Linked DNA regions of Homo sapiens. The protein of the gene in region 6 purifies or fractionates together with the protein of the main gene of each other region. This does not show direct contact. Each region holds a gene or a part of one and is shown on either strand. Other genes may lie near its edges. The genes, in order: CORO2A, E2F3, SCAF8, TMOD3, MPRIP, MYO1C and AFAP1.

Region 1 (3,081 bases), on a different chromosome or scaffold from region 6:
CAATCGTGGCTCATAGCAACCTCCACCTCCCAGGTTCAAGCAATTCTCCTATCTCAGCCTCCCGAATAGCAGGGACTACAGACGCTCACCACCACGGCTGGCCAACTTTTTTTTTTTGAGACGGAGTCTCACTCTGTCACCCAGGCTGGAGTGAAGTGGCATGATCTTGGTTCACTGCAACCTCCGCCTCCCAGGCTCAAGCGATTCTCCTGCCTCAGCCTCCCAAATAGCTGGGATTACAGGCATGCACCACCATGCCTGGTTAATTTTTTATTTTTAGTGGAGACGGGGTTTCACCATGTTGGCCAGGCTGGTCTTGAACTCCTGACCTCAGAAGATCCGCCCAGCTTGGCCTCCCAAAGTTCTGGGATTATAGGCGTGAACCACCACGCCCTGCCTAATTTTTGTATTTTTAGTAGAGACGGGGTTTCACCATGTTGGCCAGGCTGGTTTCTTTCTTTTTTTTTTTTTTTTGAGACAGACTTTTGCTCTTATTGCCCAGGTTAGAGTGCAGTGGCACAATCTCAGCTCACTGCAACCCCCGCCTTCCGGTTTCAAGCAATTCTCCTGCCTCAGCCTCCCAAGTCGCTGGAATTACAGGCGCCTGCCACCACGCCCAGCTAATTTTTTTGTATTTTTAGTAGAGATGGGGTTTCACCATGTTGGTCAGGCTGGTCTCGAACTGCTGACCTCGTGATCCACCAGCCTCGGCCTCCCAACATGCTGGAATTACAGGCGTGAGCCACTGCGCCTGGTGAGACTGGTTTCAAACTCCCGACCTCAAGCAATCCGCCCACCTCAGCCTCCCAGAGTGCTGGGATTACAGGCATGAGCCACTGCGTCTGGCCCAGTCTTCCCCTATTCTCTGGACCACAGTTTGAAAATCACAGACAGGTCAACCTAGATCCTTCCAGCTCTAGTTTTCTACTGTGTTCTTTCCTCTTGAGAAGTTACAGCTCATCATGGGCCCTTAATAACAGAATTCAACAGAAGGCATCATCTGAAAACAAAGTCAATTCAGAAACTGTTGTTGCAAGAAGGCAAACAGAAAAACGGCACCATGTCCCACTGGAATCTCTTTCAGCGATGGAGAGTTTTGTTTTCTGGTAAAAAATATAGAAATAGTGGTTGTCCTTGAGGGGACTTGTGGTTTGGTTCTAAACCTCCCCATGGAGCCGAGTGGTGTCCCTGAGGGTGAGGAGGGCAGAGGTCTCTGCTCAGAGCTGCTCTGAGCCCATCCGCAAGTTTTTGATCTCCAGTTCCAACTGTTTGGCCTGGACCTCTCGCTGGGTCAACAGCTCCCGGAGCCTTCGGATCTCCTCCTGTTGCCGGTAGAACATCTGCAGCAACTGGGGAAGAAAGATCGGAAGGCAGGATCACCATGGTGTCAGGACACCAGCTGAAAGCTAAACCACTATCCCTCTTTGACTCAGAAAGGTGGAGGCGGTCACATTAACATGGCTGAGGCCTGATGGGGCTGTCACTGCATAGATCTTTTACAAACACCTTGTTTACTTCACCCAATAAATGAAATTCAAGAAGACTGGAATGTTTCAGATGTATTTTGCTTCCATAGATCCTCCATGAAATAGAGGAAAGGATGCCTGGCTCTGAAGTCTGGGGATTGGTGTTTTCGCCACCACTGAACTGTGTGACCTTGGGCAAGTTACTTACCCACTCTGAGCTTCCATTCCTTCCTCTGGAAAATGGGGTCAGAAAACTGCCCTCTGTGCAGAATGGGTGTTAGATATTGAGTGATGCCCTAAGGGCCTCGTTATCCCACTGGAACGTTGTGACACCCCTATAAGGGTGGCAGTGCTAGTGTCCCCACCGTACCACCGTGGAAACGGAAGCTTAGAGACATTCAGTCTCTGGGTCTAAGACCCTAAATTAGTACTCAGCAGAGCCAGGATCAGAATCCATCTGTGAGATGCCAGCCTCTGTGTTCTTAGCCACTACAGACTGACTTCCAGGGCTGTTGAGAGAATTCAATCACGTGCTGTATCAAAGTGCCTACCCCAGGATCTGCCACACAGTAGGCACTAAACAAATGTGGACTTTGAAAGCACAGAAAGTCCTATAATGTCAGAACTGGAAAGACTTTGATACCCACTAGGTCAAACCCTCTCCATTTTACAGATGGTTTCCCACCATTTTTTTTTTTTTTTTTTTTTTTTTTGAGACAGAGTCTCACTCTGTTGCCCAGGCTGGAGCGCAGTGGTGTGATCCTGGCTCACTGCAGCCTCTGCCTCCTGGGTTCAAGCAATTCTCCTGCCTCAGCCTCCAGAGTAGCTGGGACTACAGGCACGCACCACCATACCCAGCTAATTTTTGTATTTTTAGTAGAGACGGGGTTTCGCCATGTTGGCCAGGCTGGTCTCAAACTTCTGGCCTCAAGAGATCCACCCGCCTTGGCCTACCAAAGTGCTGGGATTACAGGTGTGAGCCACTGCACCTGGTCACCTGGTCCCCACCATCTTTTTTTTTTTTTTTTTTTAAGATGGAGTCTTGCTCTGTTGCCCAGGCTGGAGTGCAGTGGTGTGATCTTGGCTCACTGCAACCTCCACCTCCCAATTTCAAGCCATTCTCCTGCCTCAACCTCTCAAGTAGCTGGGACTACAGGTGTACGCCACCACACCCGGCTAATTTTTGTATTTTTAGTAGAGATGGGGTTTCACTATGTTGGCCATGCTGGTCTTGAACTCCTGACCTCATGATCTGCCCGCCTTGGCCTCCCAAAGTGCTGGGATTACAAGAGTGAGCCACTGTGCCCAGCCTCCCACCATCTTTATGTATGCCCATCATTTTGGCATAAGATGGAGCTCACTGCCTGTTTGTTGAATGAATTAACAAAATGAGTCAAGTGACTAGGCCAGGCCACACAGCTGGTTATTCTTCTCATGCCTCATTTTCTCCCTTCTTCTCAGCCTGGATCTGTTCCCCTCCACCCCAGCTGCCCCATGTGAAAGGCCCACCCCGTCCTCCTTCACACCTCATTCTCTGTCTTTGGTGGGGGGCATTCGAAAACGTCAAAGCCATTTGTCAGCCAGGTTTTCTTCTCCTCCAGCCTGTGTTCTGCTG
Region 2 (3,500 bases), on a different chromosome or scaffold from region 6:
TAGAACCATGGATAAAGATATTCTGTAACTATGCAGTTGTACGTATACACATAGATAACCCATAAGCCATCATTTCCAGATTCTTATTAGAAACAAGCTGAAGACGTGTACACATCTGTCAGATACACACGTGGGTGCACACAGACATCTATGTAACAGATGAACAGCAGTCCACTTTCCAACTGCAGGGACCTCTTTAAGGATGCCGTTGCTGGATGCTCATCAAATATAAATCCTTTTATCTCTGACAGTATCTAAACAAAGTCTCTTTGTAAAGAGACTTCAAACTTCTGGCTTAGAAGCTGAGGAGGGAAGAGAGAATGAGAGAGAAGAAAACAGTAGGAGAGAAAAGAAAAGAACGTGTGGGCGTGGATGTGAAAGTGAGGAACTAAGAAACCAGGCAGTTTGAAACGACCCCCTCAGAGCCGGGGCATGGGGAGGACTCCTACTCACATCCATTGGACGTTGTTTTTAGACTTCTTCTTAATGAGGTGGATGCCTTCCAGAACGTTGGTGATATCATAAATCCTTCTCTTTTGCACTTTTAGCACTTCTGCTGCCTTGTTCAAATCCAATACCCCATCGGGTGACTGGCTCAGGAGCTGAATGAACTTCTTGGTGAGCAGACCAAGAGACGTATCATACCGCGTTTTTTCTGAGGGAGATTTTGGAGCTTAAAGAAAAACAAAAACCGAGCGGGTGGGGGATAGGGGGAAAGGTAAAGAAATGAAGGGTGTCTTTGCAGTCAAGCAAGCTCTCTTTCCCACTGCAGCCAAAGTATTAGTATCTGAAGCAAGGCTGTCGTTGCTGTTGGTGTTGGCAAGTCATAGAAAGCTATGAAAGTTTTTTATTAGAGCAGGAAGGGAAGGTAAAAATTCCAGGGTTTGATTAAAGCATTTCACCTTGAATTTCTCAAGAGTTTCTACCTTGACTTACACCATTCCCTGGCTCCAATGAAGAATTTACATATAGCGGGCGCTAAAAAATATCTGTCAAATGAATGAAAGAGTGCTGTGGCCTCAGGGGACCAGCACACACGAGGCCTACGGTGATGGAGCCAGGCTATGAGTCTCACTAGCACTGCAGGACAAGGTCTTAAACAGACCCATCTCAAATGGCCTTTCAGGCTCTGGTATCTGTGTGTGCGTGTATCACCTGTTCACCAATTTTCCAAACAATGCTTCATTTTGATAAATAATTACCTGGAAAAGTCTTCTGCCAAATCTCCCCATCTCTCTTAAAGGAAATTTCCTTACTTAATATTGTACTTGTTCCCCCATAGGTGCACAGGTCAAGGTTTTAATTTAGTGTCACACAATTTGTGGATTGCCTAATGCATGAACTAAAGGAAGAGAGAGAACAAAGTCTAATTTAGCCCTTATGTTAAATGCAAACACATACATAATGGGACTAGTTGGCTATTTCTAACCTACGTTTCTCTCTCTCCCACAAGAAACGGTAATAGTATTTGATAGAAAGAGAAACAGCCTGCAATTTATCGGGCTCAATCAATTCTTACGCTATCATATGCTGAGCTGGAGATTGAGGTCGGCACAGACACTGGTGACTCTGGCATAGTTCGTGGACATCCAGTTTGCCTCAGACTCTGAAGCAATGTCCATTAAGGGAAGTTAAAATTAAATTTGATATAGAATGGTGCCAAAAGTTCGTATTCCGAGTTGAAAAATGAAACTACATACAGTTAAAAGAAGTCTTCCCTTATGGTACCAGTGTGACTCTGTAGCCTTTCACTGGTTGTCTGCTGACATTGTATTTATTTTTTTGGATAAGCACAGAAAGAAATGAAAAAGAACAAAACATGCCAGAATTATTCACACCTTGGCATCCTTCCGGCCATAAGCTTTGAAACTTGGAAATGCCATACCAAGGAGAATAAGGAAAGAGATGAAAAGATCCTTACTTTTTGGACTATCTGGACTTCGTAGTGCAGCTCTTCCTTTGCCCTTGGGGGTTTTTAAACCATCTGAGAGGTACTGATGACCGCTTTCTCCTAGCTCCAGCCTTCGCTTTGCCTGTAATAAGAAAGTGCGATCTCTCGTCACCGGTCATATGGACAAGAACAAGAAGGGAGGCAGTTTGTGGGCTGGCCTGCCAAATGCTGCAGGCTCATGCCAGCTCTCACCCCTCTGCTCCACCCCACTCAGCATCTTGTCATTCCCTAGAGCCAGGATTCTAGCGTTGTAGGCTGGGTTGTCATGCACACTCTCTTCACCTGCCGTGATCATCCGTCCACACCCAGATGGACAAACACAGCGATCCTTCAGCATTAGGTTCAGGAGTCACTTTGTTCATTGATTCAACACATCATGTGCCTGGCATGGGGTTGGATGCTAAGAATATCACAGGCGCCGTGGGGCTTAAATTCCCTTTCCACAGTGAGTCTTTCCTGCCCATCTCCCATTCTCCGACCTGGGTTGGACCCCCTTCCTTGTGCTCCCCAAACACTCTGTGTTTATTTGTATCATGACACTTATTCGGTATTACTGTAAGACTTATCTGTTTCTCATTTCCTTTAAGGCAGGGACTGTTTCCCATTTATCTTTGTATACCCAGTGCTTGGCACAGAGCCTGGGTTTCTGTAGATTTTCAATCACTCTCTCTATATACTGTATATTCAATGAGAGAAAGGGTGATTGGATCGTAACACAACTAGTCACAGACTACAAACGGCCCTTCATCGGGAAAACAAATACTGCAAACATGCAATCTTGGGCTTCAACCACTATTACTTTCTCCATTTTCTTATCAAGCCTAGCAAATGAGAAGCCCTTATCTAAGTTTTTAATTTAACTCCAATTAAATTTTAAAATATCCACATAGCGTCTTCTAGGTACCTAGGCATTGGGCTTAGTAAGCAAGATAGATAAGGGGCTTCGAGTCCAAGAGAAAAGATAGATGGTTAAGCAGTTGTTAAGTACTAATTGTATGGGTATGACAGGTGTTTTAGAAAATAAATGGCACCAACTGGACACTCAGCACAAAAATATGTATTTAGGCTCATTTTCAGGCAGATTCTTCTAATGAGGAGATTTGCAGTTTCTTTTTTTTAAGACAGAGTCTTGCTCTGTCGCCCAGGCTGGAGTGGAGTGGCGCGATCTTGGCTCACTGCAACCTCTGCCTCTGAGTTCAAGTGATTCTCCTGCCTCAGCCCTCCCCAAGTAGCTGGGACTGCAGGTGCACGCCACCACTCCCAGCTAATTTTTGTATTTTTAGTAGAGACGGGGTTTCGCCATGTTGGCCAGGCTGGTCTCGAAGTCCTGATCTTTGGTGATCTGCCCACCTTGGCCTCCCAAAGTGATGGGATTACAGGCGTGAGCCACTGTACCCAGCCGAGAGTTGCAATTTCAAAACAACTCCCCGTGATGTGAAAACGTAAGTAATAACTTATCAGCGGAAGCTAGATATTCAGCCCCTCTATGGAAAGTTACCAGCTAACCCTGCACCGTCTACTACGATAGCCACTGGTTACTAGCTCATCC
Region 3 (3,500 bases), on a different chromosome or scaffold from region 6:
TTTAATTATTAATAATTTAGGCATCAACTTATTATAGTTACAGTATAGTGACTAGTTGTAGAGAAGTTTCCTTTAAACATTTTACATATTGATTAAAGAATTTTAATTTTTGCAGGTCCAAATTACAGAACCCAGAGCATCACAGTAAAATGTGGCACCCATGAAAGAAATCAGACAAGCTCAGAAAGTAATCACTTGCCTCAGTGGTGAATACAAGATTTTACTGACTAGTTATTTTTAGTCAAATGAAAATATTTTAAATGTTTCAAAAATGTTTCAAAAAAAATTTTTTTTTTTTGAGTCAAGAGTCTTTCTCTGTCACCCAGGCTGGAGAACAGTTGCTCAATCTTGGCTCACTGCAACCTCTACCTCCCAGGTACAAGCAATTCTCCTTCCTCAGCCTCCCCAGTAGCTGGGATTACAGGCACGCATCATCTGGCTAATTTTTGTATTTTTAATAGAGATGGGGTTTCACCATGTTTGCCAGGCTGGTCTCAAACTCCTGGCCTTAAGTGATCTGCCTGCCTTGCGCTCCCCCAAAGTGCTGGGGATTATAGGTGTGAGCCACTGTGCCTGGCCTAGGAAAAATTTTTTTAATTACTTAATTTTTTTCAGAAGTTTGAACCTTTTGTAAAATTCAGACTGTCTTATACAGTGTACAGGAGATACTGAAAGTCTACAATAAAATTTATTTATAGAATTAAAATCCATGATAGTATATAATATTTAATAATTCATATAGACTTGATCCGATATTTTAATTTCTACCTTGTTAAAGGAGACTCCCTGTTCTAAGGGAGTAAGAGTGTTGGCAGCTGCAGCTGCAGCTGTAAGTTGTGCCGTAAGAGCTTGCAACTGAACAACAAGACCAGCATCTAGGGCCTGCAGAATGGAAGGCTGGGGCTTCTGTTGTTGTATCTGTAAGGTTTGTATTAATTGTTGAAGCTGGAGAGAAAAAAATATATATTACAAAACAGGTGTTGGGTTTTTTCTGTAAGAGTGGCCACCTAAAACTTTTAGTCAGTAAAATTAATCATTCCACACTCTCTTTGAAAAAAATACACACTATTAATAAGTTAATTTTTTGAAGTTTTTCTGTGTACCTTATATAACACAGTCCTTAATAAGTTTGTCTTACTTCTGGAAAGTCAGCGAACTTTAAACAAAATAAAGTGATCTGTGACAACCAGATAAAGCGCTCATCACAAGCTGACACCTTTTTCACTAAATTTCTCTACCTTGTTCAATTAACTCTTTAAACTCAGTAAAAGGACGAGTACTGAAAATAGCAGCAGCTTTTGCTGTTATTCAGAATTACCATCTGAGCACGTACTTCCTGAAAGTTGGAGAGTCATTAAGAAATCTGTTTCTCAGAGTAGAGTCTGGCAACTAGTTATTAATAATAGTGTCATCTAGAGTTGAAGGCAACTCTTGTTCCCACCATGTACCCACCCCTGTTAAAAAACAGACACAACAGTGAGATCTTTAAGAGATTCTATAAATAAGAAAACCCTATATACATTCCAGAAATAAATGATAATCAATCTGGTTATAAGCCTGAGTTAAATCCAAAAATTATTAGTTTAAAAGAGAAAAATAAAGACAGCAAAGCTACTGATAACCAAGACAACTGTACTCTTGAAGTTCAACTTCTAGGATGAAAGGACACAAAAACTATGTAAGATGACAGTAAAGTAATTTCATGCCTACTTAAAACAGTAACACTAGGAAACAAACTAGAGTCACTTCACTATCAACTAAACATTTTCTATAAAACTATTAAAATGATAGAAACACCGTATTTCCCCTTTACACTTTTTAACTGCTCCTTTTGACATCTCCATTTTTCCCATGGCACTGTTATTCTTTTGGTCACCCAGGTAAAAAACCACTGGAGCATCCAATTTTCTTCCTCTACTCTGACTTCGCAGTCTATCAATTACTGTCTTACTGACTCTGTTTGTACTATCCCTTTCAAAGTTTCTTCTGTCAAAAATATTTATTTTAATAGGCATCTTTTAAAATAAGAACACTTGCTTTATGAATTGTTTCCAAAATATTACCACAAAATAAAATTACTAATTCTATAATTTCACCTAATATACAGCTAATATTCAGTTTCCCAACTGTCTCAAAAATGTAGAAAATAGATTCAACCTAAGAGTACACATCGGTTTTTTAAAATATTTTTAAGTCTAGAATGGCCCCATGTTTTCTATTGTATTTTCAGAAAGTATACAACCTTACTATTTTTCATAATCATTACCCTCCTTTCCAAAACCACTACTACCAAAAGAAAGATATTCTGTCTCTAGACTTCTCCTCTCTCTAATCCATGTAAAGTACTGTTAAGATCATGTGACTTCAACATTAAAAAGTCCCTGGTGATTCCCCATTGCTTAGCAAATGAAACCTTTTATTTCTGAGCCCACCATTTATAGTTTTCACAGCCCAGGTCACACTTAAGTCTGCCATTTAACTTTGTCATTAATAGCTTACACAGACTATCTTTTCCTTCAAACAACTCAACTCTACAATATCCTTTGTATCTCCAACACTGTAATGCTTTTGTACATCATTCATTCATTCCACAAAAACATATTGAACACCATCTACAACCTAGACATTGGACAGGCAGCTGTCAACAACCACAAAAAATTCTTGCCCTAGTTTAGCATACATTCCAGTGGGAAGAGGTAGAAAAAAAACCAAGTAATTATATAACATAACAGAAGGTAGTAAGTGCTAAGGAAGGAAGTAAGCAGAGGCGAGAGAGAACGGGAGTGTAAACAATGACAGGTAAGAGTTTACAGTTTTAAATAGCAGTCACGGCCAGGTGCGGTGGCTCATGTCTATAATCCCAGTACTTTGGAAGGCCGAGGCGGGCGGATCACTTAAAGTCAGGAGTTTGAGACCAGCCTGGCCAACAAGGTGAAACCTTGTCTCTACTAAAAAATACAAAAATTAGCTGGGTGTGGTAGCAGAAGCCTGTAATCCCAGCTACTCAGGAGGCTGAGGCAAGAGAATTGCTTGAACCCGGGAGGCCAAGGTTGCAATGAGCCGAGATTGCGCCAATTACACTCCAGCCTGGGTGACAGAGCAAGACCCTGTCTCTAAATAAATAAATAAATAAATAAATAGCAGTCACTGAAGGCCTTATTAAAGTGACATTTAAACAAAGACAAGAGATGAAACCATATGAATATATGAGGGAAGTGGGTTTTCAGTATAAAAAACTTCAAAAGCAGAGATCTTGGGGCAGGATTATAGGTAGTTTATTTAAGAAACAACAAAAAGGATGGAACAAGTTACAGGAGAAAGAGGTGAGAAAGCAAAGCAAAGGATAATATAAAACCAGGGTTGGGGGTGGGCAACATAAGCAAGTCTTATCATTAGTTAGAGAAGTCTATGAACTGGTGATAGAAAATGTTGGGAAGGGAACAATAGGTCAAACTGAGAACATACAAGGACCAATGAAGTGACTGCTGAAACTTGGGATT
Region 4 (3,500 bases), on a different chromosome or scaffold from region 6:
AAATACTGAAGATGCTGGTTTCTCTCAGTAGTATCTTGAGACTTCAATTCCCCCTAGCCTGGTTATTTTCAGATGATTACTGTTTATTTAGAGAAAGGGATACACAGGGACCAAATTAAAAAAAATAAAAATAGGCCGGGCGCAGTGGCTCACACCTGTAATCCCAGCAGTTTGGGAGGCCAAGGTGGGCGAATCACTTGAGGTCAGGAGTTCAAAACCAGCCTGGCCAACATGGTGAAACCCCATCTCTACTAAAAATACAAAAATTAGCCAGGTGTGGTGGTGGATGCCTGTAATCCCAGGTATTCAGGAGGCTGAGACACAAGAATTGCTTGAACCTGGGGCAGGGCAGAGGTTGCAGTGAGCCAAGATCGCACCACTGCACTCCAGCCTGGGCAACAGAGCAAGACTCTGTCTCAAAAAAAAAAAAAAAAAAGTTAGTAATCAACTATGAATATAAGCTTTCTCTGAGGCTTTCCTTCCTCTACTCACAGGAAGGATCACTCCCTAGAGGAGCACAGAAGCTTCCTTCCCTAGGCTCAAGATTTCCAGATGCTCTCCTCCACTTGTCCTCGACTTCAAAAAAATCAAGTTTTAAAATGAGGAATTTATAATGAAGCCATTACACAATGGCTAATATCTAGATAATTTGAGTTTACTTTTTGGTAATTAATTACCCCATGTCCTCCTAATTTCTTCTTTCCTTACTCCAAGGAAGAGTTGCATTGTTTAAAACTCAAAATAAGATCCCAGAAAGCCTATTCCTAGGTGTTTACTCAAGAGAATTTAAAACATGTTCACACAAAAACCTGTGTGTGAAAAGTATATAGTGGCTGTATTAATAAACATCCCAAACTGGAAGGAACCCATATGTCTTCCAACTGATGAACAGATAAACAAACTGCAGCGTATCTGACACACTCACCATGAATCAATCTCAAATGTATTATGCTAAGAAGCCAGACCCAAAAGGCTACATACTATAGGATTCAATTTATATGACATTCTGGAGAAGGCAAAATAATAGGGAAAGAAAATAGGTCAGTGGTTGTCAGGGGCTAGAGCTGGGGGTCAGAGAATGACTACAAAGGGGTATGAGAGAACTTTTGCGGTGACAGATATATTCTATATCTTGAGTGTAATGGTGGTTGTACAAAATTGTATGCACCTGTCAAAATTCATAGAACTGGACACTAAAAGGGAGAATTTTACCATATTTAAATTTTACCTCAAAAAAACAGGTTTTATTTTATTTTTTGAGATGGGACAGTGGCAGGTCTCACTATGTTGCCCAGGCTGGTCTCAAACTTTTGGGCTCAAGCCATCCTCCAGCCTCAGTCTCCCAAGTAGCTGGGATTACAGGCATGCACCACCATACCTGGCTAAGGAACCGAATTTTAAAAAAGCAAGACCCAAGAGGCTAAATGTTCTTAGAAGTGGGCAGTATTTAGAAAACCTGAGATTTATTCTGACAGTTTGTAGGGTTTACATTTTTAGATGATAAATTCTTCAAAAAGCAAGTTAGAAAATACTATACCATAATACTTCAATATCTAAAATATGAAGAAACCTATGTTAGCATACTGGTAAGAGCAAAAACTTTACGTTAAAGTAGAAAGAATTAGACTATTTTATCAACTGCCCAGCTCTCATCCTAGGTTCAACTAACTCAAAGCAATACAAAACCACTCTGATTAGCACACTTACCTTTATATTATTCAAATTAACTTCAACAAGATGAGCATCGTTTTCTTTAGTTCTCTTCAAACTCTCTTCTACATTGGTTGGATTTGGTGGCTCATCAAATACCGGAAGAATCTTTTCACCTTTGACCACATCTGCAGTGATAAATGAAAAGAGCAGGATTTGATACCATTTTTTTTTTTTTGAGACGGAGTCTCGCACTTTCGCCCAGGCCGGAGTGCAGTGGCACGATCTCGGCTCACTGCAAGCTCCGCCTCCCGGGTTCAAGCCATTCTCCTGCCTCAGCCTCCTGAGTAGCTGGGACTACAGGTGCCTGCCACCACGCCCAGCTAATTTTTTGTATTTTTAGTAGAGACGGGGTTTCACCATGTTAGCCAGGATGGTCTCTATCTCCTGACCTCGTATCAACCCGCCTCAGCCTCCCAAAGTGCTGGGATTACAGGCAGGAGCCACTGTGCTCAGCCTGGAGTTGATACTATTACAGTGCATGCAGATAATTGACTTGGTAACATCTCTTTCTCTCTCTCTCATACACGCATATTTATTCAAGGGGACAGATTTAAAAGTTCCATCCCCACAATTCCGAAAAGATCCTTTATGTGTTGACACATATTTATTTATTTAATTTTTTTTTTTTTTTTTTTTTTTTTTTTTGAGATGGAGTCTTACTCTACCACCCAGGCTGGAGTGCAGTAGCAAGATCTTGGCTCACTGCGACCTCCTCCTCCCACGTTCAAGCAACTCTCCTGCCTCAGCCTCCCAAGTAGCTGGGAATACAGGCGTGTGTCACCATGCCTGGCTAATTTTTGTATTTTTAGTAGAGATGGGTTTCGTCATGTTGGCCAGGTTGGTCTTGAACTCCTGGCCTCAAGTGCTCTGCCTGCCTTGGCCTCCCAAAGTGCTGGGATTACAGGCAGGAGCCACTGCGCTTGGCCTTGACACATATTTAAAGCACCCAAATAAAATTTTACTGAATATAAATACCAAACATATTCAACATTTAATTTGTTTGCCATGTATCAGTCTTCAAAAATGAATATTTTCATTGTCTTAGTATATTACAAGATATTTTTACCACTCAAATATATTTGATAGCACAAGTTGATGATGCCATTTGTTTTTGGCAAAATTTAAGATAAAATAATAGTATGATAAAATCTAGCATCTCATCATTTCTCTGAAATTTGACTGATAATTGGCATAAAGGCAGTAAGAATCACAGACTTAAAGAAATATAGCCTAAATGAGAAGAATAAGGTGATGGGAGGGCACATTACCTCTTCCTCCCACGAGGAGTACTCTGCAGTGGGAAAGTGGGGAGAACTTCCTGCGAGAAAGAAGGAATAGGAAAGAGGGTAGGAATAAGGAGCAGAGAGGGAGAGGAGGTAAAGGTACACAGAAGAGCTACTGAGACAGAGGCTCCAAAATTTACTGCCCTCCCTCACTCTCACTCCCTAATCTTTACCTCAGCTACCCACACAGGAATATGATGCTTCAGATGTGAACGACAGAGGACCTGAAATCCTTGAGCCCTTTAAAGAGATCACTGTGCTCTGATGCATGTGTGTGGAGGTCTACGAACACCTATAATAGGTAAACTTTTATGGATACATTTTCTGGGGAAAACATTACTTTTTTGTGGTCATTCAAGTCAAAGACCACAAAAGGCTCACAAACTAATGAATGAGCACGAAAGAGTAAGAGCAATTGACATGGAAAGACTGACCGGGTTCAAAATGGACTACTATCTGGCTTTTTTCCTTCCTGCCTTCCTCTAGATTTTAGCAGCAAAACTC
Region 5 (3,500 bases), about 16 Mb from region 6:
TTCCTGGGAGAAGTTGGTATGGTAGGTGGGGACAGGCTGCTATGAAATGGAAACCAGCCAACCCTGGACCTTCCTGCGTTGCTGCCAGGTGGGACCCACAGGAAGGAAGAGAGAGCACGTGGGCAGAGGCTGGCTGTGTCTGGTCTGGAGGGACACGGTGAAAGGCCCGTAAAACAGGGATGAGGGACTTGTCTGCTGGAGGGAACCAAGGCCATTCCACATATAGGGAGTGGCCTGGCGGGCACCGGGCTGGGAGCCTCTCAACCCACAGTGGGTTGGGGGTACATAGAGTCCACTTCTGGGAGCTGGGGGTTGGGACTCTGCCACTAGCCAGCTGACAACCTCCAGCTGGTCACTTAATGCTCAGGTGTTGACTGAGGGAGTAAGATCAGGCTACAGGCTCCCCTTCCTTCTAGCCTGTGTCTTCTTTCTTACTCTTTTCTTAAAGAAGGGCACCAATGACTTAGCACCTCTGCTAACTCTAACAAGTACATGACAGGAGACCTGCTTTCCAAACTCTCCTGTGCCTCCCTAGAGCGACATAGGCATGCCCCAGGATGGGAGCAAGCCACACCAGGAAGCCCAGGCCTGGTTATCAGAGCTGTGCTCACTAACAAAGCAGGTGAGCGTGCTGCACAGCTGCCGGGAAGGGTGGGTGTGCAGCTATTTTGAGCACGGAGGCACACACTTTCTGTCTAAATCCTTCAAGTGGTCTGCTTCAGAGAAGGGACTGGGCCTCTCGCTGAGTTTTAAAAACTGGAAGAACGTGGCCACATTCCATTCCAAATTCAAGTGTGGGGGTTTCCCCACTCTGGGCTGATAGCCTGCACCACTTGGTTAATCTTCTTGCATGTGGATTCAAGAAAGGATACCAAGAAATCCTATCAGCATGCCTGGGCATTTTTCTCTGGGCCCACTTTTGGTGATGGCCAACTCTGAGAGCCTCAGGCAGTATTTCCAAACTCGTGGTCAGTCTGGACTTGACTGCAACCTATGTGCTGCTCTGGGTGAATGTCTCAGCTATTGCCACTATTAACTAGGCGTCCCATCCCCTCTCCCAGCGGCTCCACCTGGAAGCATCTGTCTCTTTCTGCCACCCTCACACCTCAGGACGGCTGCAGGAGCTCGGAGCTCTGGAGCTCCTGGTCCTCAGGCCCCAAGGTTGAGCTCTTCTTTCTTCCTCCCACTCGCTTCTGTTTGTATGTGGCTTCTCAGTTAACACATTTAACTAATAGGTCTTTTTTAATTAAAAAAAAAAAAAATATATATATATATGGAATACTTCATGAATTTGTGTGTCATCCTTGTAAAGGGGCCATACTAATCTTCTCTGTATCATTCCAATTTTAGTATATATGCTGCTAAAACGAGCACAACTAGTATTAATAGATCTTTTAAGTCTTTTTTTTTTTTCTTTGAGTCTACTTGCTGGGAAAAGTCTTATTTTGATCTGAGTGCTTTGGAATATTATGCAGGTAAGAGTCAAAAATCTAACAGAAGCACTGGGACATCTTTAAAGACCTAGTTGCTTCTTTGGAGAGAAACTATATGCTAAAAAATAATTGATCTTGCAAACAAATGTTAATTTAAGCCAATCATTCCTGACACCAAAAGAAGTTCCCCGATGACTGCAATCGTGGTGTGGTGGGAGCCTGTGGATGTCAGAGGACGGCTGTTAGGCCAAGACCCTGTCCCCAACGACCCAAGTGGAAATCTGCATAAAGTGATGAAATCTCAAGGTGCTGTCTATTTACAAGTTCTGTAAGTCTGCAGGGGTGGGTGAGAACACCACACCTGGGCTAGAAGCTCCCAGGCACAGGAGGGGACACTATGCAACGGCAGCTAAGGCAGCAGGGAGTGGACAGTGTCCAAGCCCCTGGGAGGGGCCTCATCCCGACCTGCATCATCTGTTTCTCCCTCCTAGTGACACTGGCCCAGCACAATCTCTGGTCAGTTCTCAACATAAGGCAGTCCTCTTTTTTCTGATTTCTTGCTCACTGTTGGTATAATGGCACCTGCATGGGGCCTCCCCTGCACCTGGTTGGCTAACCTAAAGCAGCCTCGGTGTGGAGGGGCCTCTTATGGATGCAGACAGGAAGCAGGGCATTGCTGTGCCCAGGCCCTGCCCCCATGGACCCTGCTGATTGTCTGGGAAGCTGCAGGGAAGGGCACTAGCAAGCGTATTTGGGGTCAAAGCAAAGGTTTGTGCAATTAACTTTTCAAGGTGCACCTGGATCCACCCATCTCAGTGCTGCTCTTGGTGAACTGACCACAGTGCCATCATATACACACACTTTGAAAACATAGCTGTTGAAACCTTCTCACAACTCATAATGGTTTTTAAAAGGTTTTGACTGATTTGGGGAAAGAATGGTGAAAAAGAGCTTCTCAGTTCTCCTGAGGTGCTCGCTGACAACCACACCTGTGTGTCTGGGTGGGGCCGAGTCCGTCACACAGAGGTGACATGTGAGCTGCTGTTTCCATTCAGAGCTACAGGAGTAACGGGCTGGGAAAAACAGGTGTCCTGCTAGACAGTGGCTGTGAGGATGTGTAGGCAGGAGCAGTGGCAGCCACCTGGGAGTCAGGAGCTTGCAGCACAATGGTGCTGGCTGTGTGCGCGCCTGGCTCTGCCACATGAGCGTGGAAGGCACCACCTGAACATGGCTTTTGAGGGGCCTAGTCATCCTAGTCATTTACTGGGGCAGCTTCCTGAGTGGAAGGAACATAAGGGCACAGGTATCATGGTAAACTTTTGAGTCTAAGGGATGATGCTTGACAGCCACACATGGTGGGTGTGGCCTGCAGCTACAAAGGGTGGGGCCAGACAGCTGGGCCTCCACTCAGCCCACCACCACCTCCAGGGCCTGGCATTTCGCCTTTGTGCTCCAGGACCTCAGGGGCGGGGATGCAGGACAGTTCTGGGGAAAATCTACTTGTAAAGGTCCTGGGGAAGGGGACAGGAGTGGCTGGAGGCTGTGCTCCGTGGGAAAGTTCTTCTCACCAGAGCACACATCAAATGCCAGTTCCAGAGAGGGACCCTCCGCCCGACTGTGCTCTCCTAGGGCAATCAGGAGGAGACTGCCCTCCAACTGGGCCCTGGCTCTCCGGGGTGTTGCTGTGAGTACAAGGCTGTCCTCAGGCAGCTGCCTCAGATTTGGGCTGGGACTGGGCCAGACGGGGTTCCCGGGGCAGGGGCAGGAAGGAGGCAAGGCTGGCAAGGGGATTGGGGGCTGCTCTCAGGAACACGGAGAGGCCGCATTAGGCAGGCAGGGAAGTGCTGGGAAGACTACGTGCTCCTCTCCCACCAGGGACCCTGGCGGCCCTCCTGCTAGTTCTCCTCCTGGTGGAGGACACTGGGGGATGCCGAACAAGAGGCTAAGCCTGCGGCCCAGGCCCTGCTGAGACCACACCATGGCTAGCAAGTAGAGGGACAGCAGCATATCCCCTCAATTCTGCCTGCACGGTAGCTGAGCCAGACGTCCCCACACCCACCCCATTAT
Region 6 (3,500 bases):
TTCACCATGTTGGCCAAGATGGTCTCGAACTCCTGACCTCAGGTGACCTGCCCACCTCAGCCTCCCCAAGTGCTGGGGTTACAGGCGTGAGCCACGGCGCTCGGCTCTCACTCTGCTTCTCTGAGCAGCCTTCCTTCCATCCCTCCAGCATTGCTGAGGGAACCAGGCGAAGGGGAGTGATGGGAGTAGGGGCTGCCTTGGAACAGCTGCCCCTCCACACCCGAGGGCAAGGGCCCGGCCTCACCTCCTCCCCCTTGGCGATGATCTTCCTGTGTGTCAGGGCTTCTCGCAGCGTCGAGCCTTCCACGCTGAGGAGCTGCCAAGGGCAGGCGAGGACACGGTGAGGGTGCACCCCCAGCCCCCGCCCCCGCCGTCCTCCCGTCGCCCTCTGCCCGCCCCACTCACCCTGGTCAGATACTTGAGCTGGTTCTCGGTGGTGACCTGGGCATTGCTCTCCTCGTTGGCAGCAAAGTGGATGTTGCCCAAATGAAGGACGCTGGCCACGATGCTCAGCAGGTCCTGGGGGAGCAGGCCGGGGGCAGGAGGGGGTGAGAGGGGCCAGAGAGCCCCAAGAGGGCAACTAGCAGATGGCCATGCAGGGGTGGGTGGTGAAGTGTCGGAGAGAAGGGGCTGGAAGTGGGAATGGGTGTTAAAGGTGGAAGGTGATTCTGCGGGTGGGATGGGCACGGTGGCTGACGCCTGTAATCCCAGCACTTTGGGAGGCTGAGGCGGGAGGATCATCTGAGGTCAGGAGTTCGAGACCAGCCCAGCCAACATGGCAAAACCCCATCATTATTAAAAATACAAAAATTAGCCAGGTGTGGTGGCAGGTGTCTGTAATCCCAACTACTCAGGAGGCTGAGGCATGAGAATCACTTTAACCTGGAGGCAGAGGTTGCAGTGAACTGAGATCGCACCACTGCACTCCAGCCTGGGCGAAAGAGCGAGACTCCATCTCAAAAAAAAAAAAAAAAAAAAAAAAGGGATTACTGGCCCACGCCTGTAATCCCAGCACTTTGAGAGGCTGAGGCAGGCGGATCACCTGAGGTCGGGAGTTCGAGACCAGGCTGGCCAACATGGTGAAACTCCGTCTCTACTAAAACTACAAAAAATTAGCTGGGCGTGGTGGCGGGCGCCTGTAATCCCAGCTACTCGGGAGGCTGAGGCAGGAGAATTGCTTGAACCCAGGAGGCGGAGGTTGCAGTGAGCTGAGATTGCACCACTGCACTCCAGCCTGGGCAACAAGAATGAAACTCCGTCTCAAAAAATAAAAAACAAAAAAAAAAGGAGATTTTGGGGGTGTGACAGGAGGAAAGCGAGGGTCCCGGAAGAGGCCTCACCTCCACTTCATCCTCGGTGAAATCAATGACTGTCAGAGCCTTCCTGACGACCTTCCAGTCACTCTTGTCGTTGATGGAGGAGACTTTGGCACACTGGCCCTGGAGGAAGGGCACAGCTGGGTTGCCAGCCCTGGCACCAGATCCCTGGGTGGCACCTGCCCTCCCTGCCAGCCACTCACCTTCACCAGGTACAGGTAGCTCTGGGGGTTCCGTTCCAAGCCCAGCCTGCGAAGAGTCTCCTCCTCGCCCCCCTCCAGCAGCTGGTAGAAGATGTGGAAGTTCCGCTCCCCATGATTCTGGTGCACCACTCGTGACTTTTCCAGGAGGTAACTGAGGATGTGGCCACCCACGGGGGCACCCTGTGGGCAGGGCAGGGCATGAGGCCGGGTCACGGGGACTGGGAAAAGAGCCCACCTGCCCCTCTTCTCCCCTGCACTCCTGGGCTTTGGCAGCCAGACCTGGATGCCAATTCCAGCCCTGCCACTAGCTGCGTCGGCTCAGGCACGCCACCCACGCTGGACTCAGTTACTTCATCTAGGAAATGGGGAGATTCAACTCCAACGACCTGGCTGCTCCACCTGGATGCCTGACAGGTATCGCAAATTCAACAGGCCTGAAGCTCAACACCGGACCTTCTCCCTCTTCAAACAAGCTCCTGTTAGTGTCTGCCCTCCTTGGTCAGTGGTGACTACATCCTTCTCGTTGTTCAAGCCAAGGACTTGGCAGTCCTCCTGGAAGCCTGTGTTTCTCCAAACCCTACATCCAATCAGGCAGCTCATCCTGCTGCCTTAACCTTTAAAACATCCAGAATCCAATCACTGCTCGCCACTTCCACTGCACCACACTGGTCTGAGCCAATGTCACCTGTCACCTACATGATGACATCAGCCCCCTAACCGTTTTCCCTGCTTAGCCTGGTTCCCCTCCCATCTATTCGTCTACTCCCAATCTCCCAGTGAAGCAGCTAAAGTCATTTTTTTATTTTTTATTTTTGGAGACAGGGTCTTGCTTTCACCCAGGCTGGAGTGCAGTAGTGCAATCACAGTTCACTGCACCCTCGAACTCCCGGGTTCAAGCAATTCTCCTGCCTCAGCCTCCTGAGTAGCTGGGACAACAGGCACACACCACCGTGCCTGGCTAATTTTTGTATTTTCAGTAGAGGCAGGGTTTCACCATGTTGGCCAGGCTGGTCTTGAACTCCCGACCTCACGTGATCCACCTGCCCCAACCTCCCAAAGTGCTCAGATTACAGGCATGAGCCACCTCACCCAGCCCGATGACTCCCCTTCTACTCAGAGTTAAAAAAAAAAAAAAAAAGTTCTTGCAACAACCCAAAAGGGCCTGCACCGTTTGGCCTCTCTCTGTTCGCGGGCCCCTGCTCTCTTCTCTGGCCGCTGTGGCCTCCGTGCTGTCCTGGAACACTTCCAGCACCCTCGTATCTCAGGCCTTTGTCCTGGCTGTTCCGTTCCCGCTGCCTGGACAGGCACCTGCACAGCCTGCTCCTATCTCCATCAAGCCATTATTTTCTATTTTTTTTAGAGACAGGGTCTCACTCCGTAGCCCAAGCTGGAGTACAGTGGCATGATCATAGCTTAGGGTAACCTTGGACTCCTGGCCTCAAGTGATCCTCCTGCCTCAGCCTCCAGAGGAGCTGGGACAACAGACATGTGCCACCCTACCCAGCTGTCAAGCCTTTATTAAAATGCCACTTTCTCAGTGAGGCCTACCCTAATACGACCGCACCTGCCCCCCACTCCTTACTGCATTTTATTTTCTGCCACGGCCTCAATTTCCCTGTTTATTGTTTATCACCCTGGAAGGCAGGATTTTTGTTTGCTTTGTTTGACTGCTGGAATTGCAGCACCTGGAATAGTCCCTGGTACCCAGTAGGTGCTTCACACGTGTAGAGCCTACTGAATGGGAATCCTCACGACACACACATCCATGGTACCTTGAAGTCAAACTGCACATCCATGTACTTCCCGAACCTGCTGGAGTTATCGTTCCGGAGGGTCTTGGCATTTCCAAAGGCCTAGGAGTGGACAGGGGTATGAGGGACACCTGGCACTCTCCCCCTGCCCTCCCCACCCCGCCTTGTAGCTACTGCTGCCCCTCCCCTCCCGCACTGGGCTTCTCTCCCTGCCCCTCCCCTCCCCTCCC
Region 7 (4,079 bases), on a different chromosome or scaffold from region 6:
TAGCAGTGCCCACTGTGAATGGAAGGGCATTTGGCCTGAGCCCAGACATGTACAAGTTGGGCAGAGAAGGGGGTGGGTCCCTGGGACCCACAGAGGAGCAGCTATGGAGGTACAGAAAAACCAAGTGTGTGGGGGTCACATGATGCAGGAAGCTCAAATAAGATGAGGAAAGAGGTTTTAAAGATGATCAGGGTTGGGGACAGTAGTTCATGCCTGTAATCCCAACACTTTGAGAGGCTGAGATGAGACGATAGCTTGAGGCCAGGAGTTTGAGACCAGCCTGGGCAACATAGGGAGACCCCATTTCTAGAAATAAATAAATACATTGGTACTTGGCATTTCAGGTGGGGAACAGCAAACACGTGAAAGCTCTGAGGCAGGAAAGCGAAGTGATTAGTGCTTGCTTGCTCCTGGTTCCTTTATCAGGCCTTAAAGAGATGCAGAGACATCTCAGGTACTCCTTGGCCGAGCTCCTTCAGGGAGGGCCTAAGTTCGCTTCTACTTCACATCTTTAAAAAAAAATTTTTTTTTTGGAGACAGAGTCTCACTCTGTCGCCCAGGCTGGAGTGCACGCAGTGGCACGATCTCGGCTCACTGCAACCTCCACCTCCTGGGTTCAAGCGATTCTCCTGCCTCAGCCTCCCCAGTAGCTGGGACTACAGGTACGCGCCACCACAATCGGCAAAGTTTTTGTATTTTTAGTAGAGACGGGGTTTCATCTTGTTGGCCAGGCTGGTTTCGAACTCCTGACCTCAAGTGATCCACCTGCCTCGGCCTCCCAAAGTGCTGGGATTACAGGTGTGAGCCACCGTGCCCGGCCCTACTTCACTCCTAACGCCCGCCATACGTGCTTCCAAATGTTTGCTGAATGACTACAAGATGAACGAGTGAATGGGATTACGTTTCTTCGAGCGGCAGGCAATCCTATTCCTTGGACCTCAGTTTCCCTTTCTGTAAAGCAAGCCTTTCTCTCGCTCTCTGCCCTAAAAGCCTGAGCTCTGGGTTTGAGATGAGCGCGTCCTGTAGAGCCGACTCCAGGTAGACGTTGAGCTGGGTATTCTAGGAGGCGATGATCGGGCCGGCTCTTTGAGGCGGGTCCTCCCGCGGGACCCCGCAAGCCCAGTCCCAGCACCGCCCCGCCCAACCTCCCTTTGTTCCCTCAGGCCCCGCCCACTCCGCGCAGCTCGCTTCCCATTGGCCGGGGGGCGGGCCCTGGGCGCCCGGCTCCGCTGGGGGCGGGACGGCGGGCGGCGGGCGGGGCCGTGTGCGCCTGCGTGGTGTCTGTCCCGGCCGCAGCCCCACGCCGGCTGCAGCTCCGCGAGCCGAGCCGGATCTCGAGCGGGGTACACGGGCTGAGGCGGCGGCGGCGGCCCCGCCCCGGGGCTCCATTGTTAAGGCGGCTGCGGCTCTGTCGGCTGTTCAGCTGCGCTCCAGTCGGCCCAGGCGCCGCGGCGAGGAGCGAGCGCTGCGAGGTGGCGGCCTGAGGTGAGACGGCGCGACTGGCGGCAGGGTCTCCGGACCCGGCGGGGGTCTCTGCCCCGGGCGTGGAAGCTCCGAGCGGGGCTCCGCAGGGTCCGGGGTCCGTGCGCCTGGGCTTTGTCTCGGCCTCGGGTGGTACCGGGGGCTCCGCGCCTGCTGCGACGCCGCGTGGGCCCGCGCGGGGGTCCCGGTCGTCCTGCGGGTGGGGGCCGGTCCCCACTGCTCCCCAGCTCCCCGCGTCTGCCCGGAGGGGACTGCGTGGACCCGGGCGCTGGCTCCTGCCCGGTGCCCCCGCGGCGTGGCTGGTCCCCGTGTGCGTCAGAGGGGGCCCTGCGAAGACCCACTCGTGGGGCGGGGTCCGGGTCACCAAGAGTGGGAGGCTCCGCCGCCCTCCCCCGTAGCGAGACTGCTTCGTCCGACTTACCGAGGGGACTGCGCGGACCCTCGGACGAGGGGGTCCGTGACTCTGGATGGGGGCTCTTTCTTGGCCCCGCATGACGGCTTCCTGAGTGTTTTGTCACCTATAGGTTGTTGCGTGGACCCACGCGCGTGGGTCCCGGCCGCCCTGCGAGTGGGGCTCTGCGCCGCCCCGTGGCTCGTCTGGGTCGACCCCGCCTGGGACGCGAGTGTAATGGGGGTCCGTGCGCGGGGGGCGCGGTTGGTGGGGGCGCACTGCCCCGCCCCGTGATTTATCCTCTCACCTGCCCGGCGGGTGGAAGCGAGAGGCGCGGGCCCGGAGCTGTCGCGCAGCGGCCGCACCGTCCTCTCCCCTGGCCGGCGGGCCCCGGGGGGCGCGGGGCTGTCACCGCGCGTCCCACCGCCGCGCTTCCTGCTCTGGCCCCGGGCTGGGCTCTGATTGGAGGGAGCAGGGCCCTACTGCCCGGAGCTTCTTGATTTCTTCCGTTAGTAATGGGAAGAAAAAAAAAATCTGGAAAGCCAGATTGAACTTTGTAGCTCTCAGCGCCTGGAGAGTGGAAGAAACTCTCCCAAGAATTTGGCGGGCTGGAAAATGCGTTTCAAGCAGGAGCATCCACACCCACGGAATGAGGCCAAGGCAGTTACAGTTAGAGGTCAGATTTATGAGGGGAGAGCGAGGGTGAGGTCCGTGGGTGGGGAGACTCCGACCTCAGCTTGATGGGAAGACCTGATGCTGCCCCTCAGACGCTGTATTTCTCAGCCACCAAAGAAAGTGGAATCACTCCTTAGTGAATGCTTTCATCAAACTTTTGAAAAACCTGTTATGTCCCAGGAAGCAAAATCGAACTGGACAGTTTTCCCCTTTTAGGAGAGTTAAAGATCCCGGAGACAAACAGCAGAAGGCTCAAGGAGTCCAAATACCCAACCTGAAGTTCTTTCTGAACAAGAGATGGTGTTTAAGTAACAGGCATACAAGACAAAACTGAGCTAATTACCGCAGCTGTGGCTCCTAGCCCTCTAGCGTGTCATGCGGGCCCTTTTGCTTTCTCTGCCCTCCGCTGCCCCAGACCCCCACTCTACGCCGCACCTCCAGTCATCAGCTCATGCCGACCCATTGCTATGGACTCTGTTGAGGTGGCTCCCTTCTCTCTGAAGCTTTGCTTGTTCTCCTGAAGTCCTGGTCTTTAAGAGCTTATGATCTGCCAGGACAGATTGGCTTTGGGTAATACATGGTTAACTGTAGCACAGCTTGAAAAATGCTCTGATAGAGGTGGGCAGGCGCAGTTTGTGCATGCGGGTAAATGCGAGCTCCTTTTTCAATACCATGAATCCAAGTATTCATGCTATTTTAAATCTGCAATTCTTTGACTCTCCAGAGGGTTTTTAGATTAATCTTTTTCTATTACTTCCTAATGTTTGTTGCATAGTGCAGAGTACTTGATTAAAACTTAGCAGGTCGGCCGGGCGCGGTGGCTCACGCCTGTAATCCCAGAACTTTGGGAGGTCGAGGCAGGCGGATCATTTGAGGTCAGGAGTTCGAGACCAGCCTGGCCAACATGGTGAAACCCCGTCTCTACTAAAAATACAAAAATTAGCCGGGCATGGTGGTGGGTGCCTGTAATCGCAGCTACTCATGAGGCTGAGGCAGGAGAATAGCTTGAACCCAGGAGGCGGAGGTTGCAGTGAGTTGAAATAACTCCACTGCACTCCAGCCTGGGCGATAGAGTAAGACTTCGTCTCAAAATAAAAACAGAAACAATGTACTGGGTCTACGTCCGGCTCTGGAATTTTCCTGGAAGGCCTTCTCTTCTGGGCTTCATTTTTCTCACCTTTGAGGATCGTAAACTACATAATTTCTAAGAATCTTTTCAGCCCTACACCTTTAATTCTTTCAAGCAAATATAGTAGAGAAAAATTCTCTTACCAGCAATGGTGTAAATAACGGAAGCCTTTGAAAATGTGGATTCTAAAGTGGAAGTTTCTTTTCTTCTTCCCCTTTTTTTCCTTTTAAACAAGTTGAGTTACATGTGTATATACTTTATCTCAGAGTTAAGGACAAGTATCTATGATGAAACCTTAAGCAACTTTTTGGCAATATCTTTCATATTCTTCATAATTGTTTTATGTGCAACATCTTCACTATATCCAATTGGTTTGTTTTTTTCTCATTAATGGAGTTGTTG

What was found.
Region 1: the proteins of MYO1C (region 6) and CORO2A purify together in Homo sapiens (affinity purification with mass spectrometry; one large-scale study listed by BioGRID and IntAct). This does not show direct contact.
Region 2: the proteins of MYO1C (region 6) and E2F3 purify together in Homo sapiens (pull-down; one large-scale study listed by IntAct). This does not show direct contact.
Region 3: the proteins of MYO1C (region 6) and SCAF8 purify together in Homo sapiens (affinity purification with mass spectrometry; one large-scale study listed by BioGRID and IntAct). This does not show direct contact.
Region 4: the proteins of MYO1C (region 6) and TMOD3 purify together in Homo sapiens (affinity purification with mass spectrometry; one large-scale study listed by BioGRID and IntAct). This does not show direct contact.
Region 5: the proteins of MYO1C (region 6) and MPRIP purify together in Homo sapiens (affinity purification with mass spectrometry; one large-scale study listed by BioGRID and IntAct). This does not show direct contact.
Region 7: the proteins of MYO1C (region 6) and AFAP1 purify together in Homo sapiens (affinity purification with mass spectrometry; one large-scale study listed by BioGRID and IntAct). This does not show direct contact.

The regions. Positions count from the first base shown.
Region 1 is NC_000009.12:98,123,557-98,126,637, forward strand, and holds part of CORO2A (coronin-2A), read right to left. Parts: coding exon 2,993-3,081; intron 1,350-2,992; coding exon 1,218-1,349; 3' UTR 1-1,217.
Region 2 is NC_000006.12:20,478,379-20,481,878, reverse strand, and holds part of E2F3 (transcription factor E2F3), read right to left. Parts: intron 2,034-3,500; coding exon 1,922-2,033; intron 674-1,921; coding exon 454-673; intron 1-453.
Region 3 is NC_000006.12:154,799,416-154,802,915, reverse strand, and holds part of SCAF8 (SR-related and CTD-associated factor 8), read right to left. Parts: intron 946-3,500; coding exon 769-945; intron 1-768. UniProt on the Homo sapiens protein: Anti-terminator protein required to prevent early mRNA termination during transcription. Together with SCAF4, acts by suppressing the use of early, alternative poly(A) sites, thereby preventing the accumulation of non-functional truncated proteins.
Region 4 is NC_000015.10:51,892,153-51,895,652, reverse strand, and holds part of TMOD3 (tropomodulin-3), read right to left. Parts: intron 1,839-3,500; coding exon 1,708-1,838; intron 1-1,707. UniProt on the Homo sapiens protein: Blocks the elongation and depolymerization of the actin filaments at the pointed end. The Tmod/TM complex contributes to the formation of the short actin protofilament, which in turn defines the geometry of the membrane skeleton.
Region 5 is NC_000017.11:17,167,957-17,171,456, reverse strand, and holds part of MPRIP (myosin phosphatase Rho-interacting protein), read right to left. Parts: intron 1-3,500. UniProt on the Homo sapiens protein: Targets myosin phosphatase to the actin cytoskeleton. Required for the regulation of the actin cytoskeleton by RhoA and ROCK1.
Region 6 is NC_000017.11:1,479,187-1,482,686, forward strand, and holds part of MYO1C (unconventional myosin-Ic), read right to left. Parts: intron 3,373-3,500; coding exon 3,292-3,372; intron 1,700-3,291; coding exon 1,520-1,699; intron 1,440-1,519; coding exon 1,341-1,439; intron 520-1,340; coding exon 406-519; intron 317-405; coding exon 245-316; intron 1-244.
Region 7 is NC_000004.12:7,937,062-7,941,140, reverse strand, and holds the start of AFAP1 (actin filament-associated protein 1), read left to right. Parts: upstream 1-1,279; 5' UTR 1,280-1,485; exon of another isoform or gene 1,486-2,140; intron 2,141-2,351; exon of another isoform or gene 2,352-2,488; coding exon of another isoform or gene 2,489-2,549; intron 2,550-4,079. UniProt on the Homo sapiens protein: Can cross-link actin filaments into both network and bundle structures. May modulate changes in actin filament integrity and induce lamellipodia formation.